3 separate regions of the Homo sapiens genome follow, and regions 1 and 2 are each linked to region 3. Evidence: fine-mapped expression QTL. A gene starts in region 3. Each other region holds a variant in brackets. All regions are shown on one strand. Distances are between the middles of the regions.

Region 1 (2,847 bases), 35 kb after region 3:
GGGTGGGTTTGCCATGGGCTTCTCTCAGCACTCACCACCCTGATTGCCTGACTTTCCTCCTGCTTTCTTGCAGACCCTGTGGTGAAGGAGCAGTCCCAGCCTTGTGCAGACAATGCTGTGCTTTCCAGTGGTCTCACGGCAGCACGATGAAGACTGGAAAGCGACGGGTAATGCGGCATTGATGCTTGCCAATAAAACCAACCAACCAAACACAAACCTTGAAGGAAAACTACAGTGTGATAAAAAGAAATTCTTATCATTCCTTCTAAATGCACAGAAGAGTAAAGACCTAAAAGTCTGTCAAAAAGCAAGAAAGAAACTCCCCAGTGCTAGTCTCCAGGGAGCTGTCACTGTGGCAGCATGGGGATGCACCTAGTTCAGGATCTGAAGGAGCTCTGCCTTTGGAATGCATGGGAGATAGAGACTCGGAGTTGTTGTACATTTACCTTTGTTTAACAGGGCACCACTGTTGAATTAACCCATTCAGTCAACAAGCTCTGAATGTCTGACTTCCTATCTATTCCATTGTGGTCTGGGTTTCCTTTGGTGAAATTCAGGCTCAAGTCTTAGCGAAATGTCAGCAGTCTATACTGACACACCAGCCTCATTTACAAAAAGGAGATATTAAAACAGTGACAGTATTTTTTTTTTAAGCTCTTTACAAATCCACGTTTTATGTATTTTTTAATGACATGAGCTCTCCAGGAAATGTACCTCATCCCCGCAGTTTTCCTCCAAGTGGATTCATTTGGGAGCAAACTGCAGTCACTTTCACAAGAGTCCTCTTTGATGTCAGGAGGGATCACGAAACCTTGCAATGCCATGAACTGGTCCATGGTTATCATCAAAAGTTCCATGCTAAGTGCATAACTTGGAGCTCACTATAACCTTTGTTGATTTCCCTAACCATAAAATCTTGTTGCTATTTTTTTGTTGCTTTTTCTTTTTTTTTTTTTTTTTTTTTTTTGGCAGCCTTGTAAGGAGAACTTCACCATTTCCCAGCACATCCCTATGTGTGCGCCTATTTTAATGCACCTCTCTGAAACAGAGACCTTTTTGTTCACAACCATAACTAAAGCTGGAAAGTCAGTCTTCAGGCAAGGCGAGGGAGGAAAACATCCCATTAGAATTTTTTCAGGAAAGACTTATGGAAAAAAAT[A/C]TCTCTCTCCCACCTCCTTTTATCCCCATGAGACACAGTTTCCCACTGTAATCAGGGTAATATGCATTTGTAAGTTCTGATATGTGATACATTTATGTGATGGCAAAGATAAGTCTGTCTTGCATGCAGGTACTAGAGTTGTGTGGGCAGGGTCATCTGAAACTCAAGCAACTCAGAGGAATATACAAGGGGCTTGGGGAAGAAAATGGTGCTCCCGGAGCAAGTGTTGGATCCATTTTGCAAACCTTCATGTTAGCAGAGAAAGCTAGAGTTTGTTTAAACAAAAATAGGGCTGATTTCATTTTGGGGACTCAGGAGCAACATGGTTTGTAGGCAGTCCCCTCACCCCAGCTGCAGGGCCATGCCACAGCTGTGGGGACTTCACACACCTAGGCTAGAACTAGAGGTGTCTACCACATCACCCTTTAAGATTTCTTTATTAACTATTTAATAATGCCATACATTTTTATAAGGTTAGATGTTTGTTTGAAACATTTGTTTACATTCCATATTCCAATAAAATCTTATTGGTATTGGTAGCAGATCCTACTCTAAATGTAGATTCTATTTTTGTCGTTTGGTCTGTGGGAACTTAAAATACAAATGAAACTCTTCTCTTATTATAGAGTTGAGTTTATAGAGTAAAAAATAAATAAGATCCCAAAGCCAAGGAATGCATTCAGTTAAGGTTCTCATACCAATGCTGCCTGCTTGCATTGCACATTCTGTATACTAATGTAAACATTTGTTCTACCTGAAAATCAAAAGCAAGATGTGAGCTCTTTGGCTAAACCTGTATTGATATGTCAGGCAGCAAAACTCAGTGTTTGAGATTATCAAAAGCCTTCTAATATGCCCTTATAGGCAATCCTGAAGCATTGGTTATCATCAGGGAGATGTGCCACTGCGTGTCTTTCCTGCTCCCCCTCCAATCTCCTTTATCACCCCACCCCACTCCTCAGCCCTCCCTTTTTTTTTTTAAGTTGCCTGTCTGGACCAGGCAAGAGGTGCCTACTGGAGGGTCTTGGTGAAGCGGTAACTCCATTCCTTTCCCTTGGGTCCCCCAAAGGTAATAAAAGTACCTGGAGGAGAATAGTCAGGTGATTGACCTCTGCCTGTCTCTCTGACGGTGATGTAGGTGCAGACACCGCCTGCCTGCCTTGTCCTGGGGTTTTGTAACTGCAGCTTTGACACAGGCATTCTTCCTTTGAAGCACACAGCTTGCTTTTCCAGCACCTAGACTTTTACCTCTCTTCATGCCTTAGACTTAGACCATAACTGGGCTTGAAATGCTCACCCCTTCCTGGGTCTGGTCTTGGCACCTAGGCTATTCCTTTCCAAACTGAAGTGAGTCCAGTTTCAGACCATCTCTTTTCCTGTCTCCAAAAACCATTTTTGTTTCCAAACCTAGCTCCCCCGAAATTTTAAGACTATTTACCTAGATTCGGAGATGGTCTTGGAGAGTTCCAAAAGGGGTGTGTGTGTGTCTGTGTGTGTGTCTGTGTGTGTGTCTGTGTGTGTGTCTGTGTGTGTGTCTGTGTGTCTAATATTTAGACTAAACCATGGTAAATGTACGCACCCAGTATCCTTTTCAGTTAGCATATTCTTTCTTAAACTCATCTCAGTACTTTTCATTTGTTTGCTTCATTATCTTAAACAGGTTAAAAGTGCCTATGATAAGGACTTAA
Region 2 (2,786 bases), 51 kb after region 3:
TCAGGCAGAGCAGTGGGAAGACAAGTGTCGGTAGGGTGTGGAGGGGGTGCTGTTTTTAAGACTGGGTTGTCAAAGACATCCTCTCCAGTAAAGCAGTATTGTGGGCTGAGTAATATCCCCCCAAAATTCATGTCCACCCAGAGCCTCAGAATGTGACCTTATTTGGAAAGAAGGTTTTTGCAGATGTAATTAGTCAAAGATCTCAAGATGATGTCATGCTGGATTTAGGGTGTACCCTAAATCCAATGCTGAGAGTATCCTTATAACGAGAGGAGAGGACACAGAGAAAAGGTGGCCACATGGAGATGGAGGCAGAAATTGGAAAGACACTGCCACAAGCCAACCAGATTGGAATGCCTGGGGGCCACCAGAAGCCAGGAAGAAGCAAGGAAGGACCCTGCCCCAGAGCCTTCAGAGGGAGCATGGCCCAGTCAACACCTTGATTTTGGACTTCTTAGCTTTCTGCACTGTGAGAGATTACATTGCTGTTATTTTACATTTAAATTTTATTTTGAATTAATTTTACTTTAATTTTATTTTGTTCAATTGCCACCATACCAAGGTTGTGGTCATTTGTCGTGGCATCTCTAGGTAGCTAATACAGACAGCGCCTGAGTGGAGCTCCGAGTGAGGAAAAGAGTGAGCCAGTAGAGCAGGACCAGCCAGGGCAGGGACAGAGGCAGAGGGAAGCCGGTGAGAGAGGGATGCAGGGTGCAGGCAGCACTGAGGGAGGAGGGTGTGAGGAGAAGGATGTAGGAGAGAAGGCCAAAGTGGTTTCAGGGAACAAGATGGAGGAGACCAGAGTAAGGATTTTTTTTTTAATGTGTGTATATATGTGGGGGTGTGTGTGTGTGTATTTATGTATATATACACACACATATATTTTTTATATTTATATACTTTTAAAAAATATTTTTTATATTTTATATACACACTTTTTAAATATATATATTTCTCACTCTGTCACCCAGGCTGGAGTGCAGTGACACAATCTTGACTCACTGCAACCTCTGCCTCCTTGGTTCAAGTGACTCTCGTGCCTCAGCCTCCTGAGTAGCTGGGATTACAGGTGTGCACCACCATGCCTAGCTAACTTTTGCATTTTTTTGTAGAGACGGAGTCTTCCCATGTTGCCCAGGCTGGTCTCAAACTCCTGGGCTCCAGCAATCTGCTCACCTTGGCCTCCCAAAGTGCTGGGATTATAGGTGTGAGCCTTAGTTTTATTCTTAGCAAAATGAGTAGCTATTAGAGCAAAGAGCCACTAAGAGGATCCTTCTGGCTGCCATGTGGAGAGTGGACTACAGGATGGCAAGAGTAGTTGTAAGCAATCAGGAGGAGGCTGTCTCAGGCGTACAGGAGAGAGAGGCTGCATTAGCCCTTCTTGCGTTGCTATAAAGAAATGCCTGAGGCTGGTTAATTTATACGGAATGGAGCTTTAATTGGCTCACAGTTCTGCAGGCTGTACCAGCATGGCTCCAGCATATGCTTCTGGTGAGGCCTCAGGAACCTTACAATCATGGCACAAGGCAAAGGGAAGCAGGTGCGCCACATGGCAGGAGAGGGAGCAAGAGAGTGAGGGGGAAAGTCACACACTTTTTTTTTTTTTTTTTTTTTTTT[G/TG]AGAAAGGGTCTCACTCTGTTGCCCAGGCTGGAGTGCAGTGGTATGATCTCAGCTCACTGCAACCTCCACATCCTGGGTTCAAGTGATTCTTGTACCTCAGCTTCCCAAGTAGTTGGGACTACAGGCACACACCACCACGCCCATCTAATTTTTGACATTTTTAGTAGAGATGGGTTTCACCATGTTGGCCAGGCTGGTCTTGAACTTCTGGCCTCAAGTGATCTGCTCACCTCAGCCTCCCAAAGTGCCAGGATTACAAATGTCAGCCACTGCGCCCAGCCAGTGCCACACACTTTTAAACAACCAGATCTTACGTGAACTCAGACCAAGAACTTACTATCACAAGGACAGCACCAAGCTATTCATGAGTGAGGGATCTGCCCCCTGACCCAAATACCTCCCACCAGGCCCCACCTCCAACACTGAAGATCACATTTCAACATGAGATGTGGACGGTACAAACATTGAAACCATATCAGGGGTTGATGTTTGGACCAGGGCAGTACCCATAAAGGTAGGGATGTGATTAGATTGGGGAGATATTTTGAAGGTAGAGCTACAGGATTTGCTGATGTGGGCTGTGAGAAAAAGTGGAGCTCGAACTGACTCCAAGGTGTTGGGTCTGAGCAAGGAATCAAGCTGTCACTTACCAAAATGGGCAAGACTTGGGGTGGAGCAGGCTTGGGTAAGGGCTGCATGTGGGATGTGTGTGAGGGGAGAGGGTGGAGAAATGTAAAGCTCTGTTTGGGCCATGTTAAGATCCAAATGCCCACGATACCTCCCAGGGGAGAAGTCAAATAGCTGGTTGGATATATGCAAATGGAGCCCAATGGGGCAGTGGGAGTGAAGATAGACTTTGGGAATAGGGGTGGAAAGAATCAGCTTATATATAGGGAGCTATTAAAGCCATGAGACTAGCTGATATTGGAGGGAGTGGATTTTTGGGAAGAGTGGAGTTTGCAGACAGCACCTGGAGCCCTGTGAAGCTTAGACATGGAGGAAATGAAGATGGACTAGCAAAGAAGACAAAGAAGGAATGACTGGTGAAAAGAAAAAAGGGGGAGGCCGGGCACGGTGGCTCATGCCTGTAATCCTAGCACTTTGGGAGGCCGAGGCAGGTGGATCACGAGGTCAGGAGATCGAGACCATCCTGGCTAACACGGTGAAA
Region 3 (2,500 bases):
ATTACTGGTTTTATGCTGTAGAATCTGTGACACAGAGAGGTTGAGTAATTGCCCTAAGGTCACACAGCTTCTAAGTAGCAGTGCTGGATAGATCTGACTCCACAGACTGTGCTCTTAGCTGTGTCAAGCAGGAAGGCCCAGGGTTTCATCCAGAAAACAGAATGTGAAAAGGGACTGGAATGAAAGCAACCTGTACTGGGTGCAGAGGTGCTGTCGATAAAGGATGAGGGATGGGAAAGGAAGACAGAAGAAAGGCCTAGAAGATCAAAGGAGAAGGGTGTTCAAGGCTGCAGGCAGCACTGGAAGCCAGGCCAGCTCAGTTGACCACCTACTCTGGGCACATCCCCAACCCAGCCTGTCCCTTCAGGTCGGATTTGCAATTCTCCTGCTCTCCCTCCTCCTAAACACAAACAGGAGATTTACACTCTCAAAGTCTCTCCCCACAAATGACTTATTAATCACAAAGGGAAAAATTGTAACTTTGCAGTGGCACAACCTGGTCAATGCCAGCTTAACCAAGTGACCAAAGTGGATATTCAGGGAAGGCTCTGGAAGGGCATTTGGGGGAAGTGTAGAAAGGTTTTGTGAGGAGCACTCTGAATGACGGGGGTAGGAAGCCTTGGGGACTGAGGAGTCTACCCTAACAGGGCAGGGTCCAGAGGGGGAAGGAGGGGTATGTCTCGGGGGAAGGGAGAAGTATTGAGGTGGGGGAGGTTCTGAGGTTTGAGTGAGGCCCTGGGGAGGGACTTGACAGTTTGGGTGACAGGAGGGTCAGAATAGGGTCAGTATGGGATGTGTTGGGTGGGTAAAAGCTGGGTGAGTGCAGGGCTGGGGATAGGGTCTCCAAGGACAGTGAAAGGGTCGGGAGTCGCGGGCGAGGGCTCTAGGGCAACGGCCAGTGGAAGGGGGGGCTCCTGTGGCGTGAAGTCAAGCCAGCCCGAGGGTGAGGCGATTTGGACAGTCCGACCTGTGGCGGCGGGAGGGCGAGGGTGGCGGAGGGCGCGAGGTAGGCGGCGGGGCGTGCCGGGGCGGGGCCGGGGCGGGGCCGGCACCGCCCGGCGGGTCCCCCCGCGCTCCAGGGGGCGCTGTGAGCCTGGGCGGCCCCAGGCCGGGCGGCGGCCGCTCCCAGTGAGCGCGGCCCCTTTTCCGGGTTTCCTCCGCCTCCTCCTCCTCTCCTCCTTCTTCTCCGCTGCCGCCGCCGCTGCCCCTTTCCCGGCCGGTGGCTGCCGCTGCCGGTGCCGCCGCCGCCGCCTCCTGGGGGCCGCGAGCCGAGCGGAGACCGCCGCGGAGCGCGAGCGCCGCCCGCCCCGCCGCCCCGCCGGCCGCTCCAGGGCCGGGCCGGCTCGGCCGGCGCCCCCCGCGCCCCCAGCCCGCCCGCCCCCGCGGGCCCGGCCTGGCGCGGCCGCCCGCCGCCGCGCTCCTCCTCCTCCTCCTCCAGCGCCCGGCGGCCCGCTGCCTCCTCCGCCCGACGCCCCGCGTCCCCCGCCGCGCCGCCGCCGCCACCCTCTGCGCCCCGCGCCGCCCCCCGGTCCCGCCCGCCATGCCCGGCCCGGCCGCGGGCAGCAGGGCCCGGGTCTACGCCGAGGTGAACAGTCTGAGGAGCCGCGAGTACTGGGACTACGAGGCTCACGTCCCGAGCTGGGGGTAAAGCCGTCGCCGCCCCCCGCCGGGCCCGCTGATCCCTGCCCCCGCCCGGCCACCCCCTGCGAACCGCACTCGGGCCCGGTGGTGTCTCCCGCCGACCCCTCCGCGGGCCCGCAGGGAGGCAGAGGTCCCGCTCTCGCACATGTCCTCGTCTTCCTCTTCCCTCCCCTTTACCCCCGTTTCGTCCCTTTCTCCCCGCTTTGCGCACCCCTTTCCCCCAAGGAATGCTTTTTTACTCGGGGAGAAGTGTGGGGTCCAGGGATCGACGCCGGGTGGAAGTGAGGGAGCTGCCCTTCCTCACACTTCTGGGTTTCCACTGGGGTGGGAAGTCAACAGCTGTCCTTTGGAGCTATTAAAATGCCCTGCCTTTTAGGTTTTCTGAGATGAGGTGGTGGGAGGAAATTTCTTAAAGACGTCCAGATTTTTAAAACAGGCATTGTCTACCTTGAAGATGTGAAACGAGAAGCAGGTGCTGGGGAGCCGCGGGGCACAGGGGGCACCCTCTAGGCCTTCAGGACGGGTGCTTTGCTCGCCCCTCTGGATTGGCTCAGAGCGTTGCCTTCCTGCCCCATCTTCCCAAGTTAGGAGAGACCAATTAGGTTAGGAGCTCTGCAGAGTGAAGGGAGCCAAGATTATGTCGTGGCTTTCATTTAGGGAATGAGTTGTGACGTGATGTATAGACACTTCCAAGTGTTTGCCTGGTGGAAGCGGCTGAATGACGTGTACAGTGGGCATAGGCTTGGTTAACCCCCAGTCCTGGCATTTATGTGTGTGTCTTCCTTTTACAGTAATCAAGATGATTACCAACTGGTTCGAAAACTTGGTCGGGGAAAATATAGTGAAGTATTTGAGGCCA

Evidence for each region. PIP is the estimated chance that this variant, and not a neighbour inherited with it, causes the effect. A credible set is the group of variants that fine-mapping cannot tell apart.
Region 1: its variant is the best candidate, but not a certain one, in a credible set for the expression of CSNK2A2 in blood mononuclear cells (TOPMed, PIP 0.55).
Region 2: its variant is the best candidate, but not a certain one, in a credible set for the expression of CSNK2A2 in lymphoblastoid cells (TwinsUK, PIP 0.87).

The regions. Positions count from the first base shown.
Region 1 is chr16:58,161,374-58,164,220 of GRCh38, reverse strand. It overlaps CSNK2A2 (casein kinase 2 alpha 2), which reads left to right. Exons shown (of 12, transcript NM_001896.4): 11 at 74-167. The coding sequence ends at 150. Among named protein-coding and RNA genes, the nearest start is that of CFAP20, 33 kb to the right of the region's middle. The variant A/C (reference allele first, on the strand shown) is at 1,160.
Region 2 is chr16:58,145,715-58,148,500 of GRCh38, reverse strand. The region is part of intron 3 of LOC101927556 (a long non-coding RNA gene); the gene reads right to left. Among named protein-coding and RNA genes, the nearest start is that of CFAP20, 18 kb to the right of the region's middle. The variant G/TG (reference allele first, on the strand shown) is at 1,618.
Region 3 is chr16:58,196,777-58,199,276 of GRCh38, reverse strand. CSNK2A2 (casein kinase 2 alpha 2) reads left to right here and starts at 1,171. Exons shown (of 12, transcript NM_001896.4): 1 at 1,171-1,644; 2 at 2,433-2,500. The coding sequence starts at 1,541. RefSeq lists silencers at 818-947, 998-1,267, 1,668-1,737.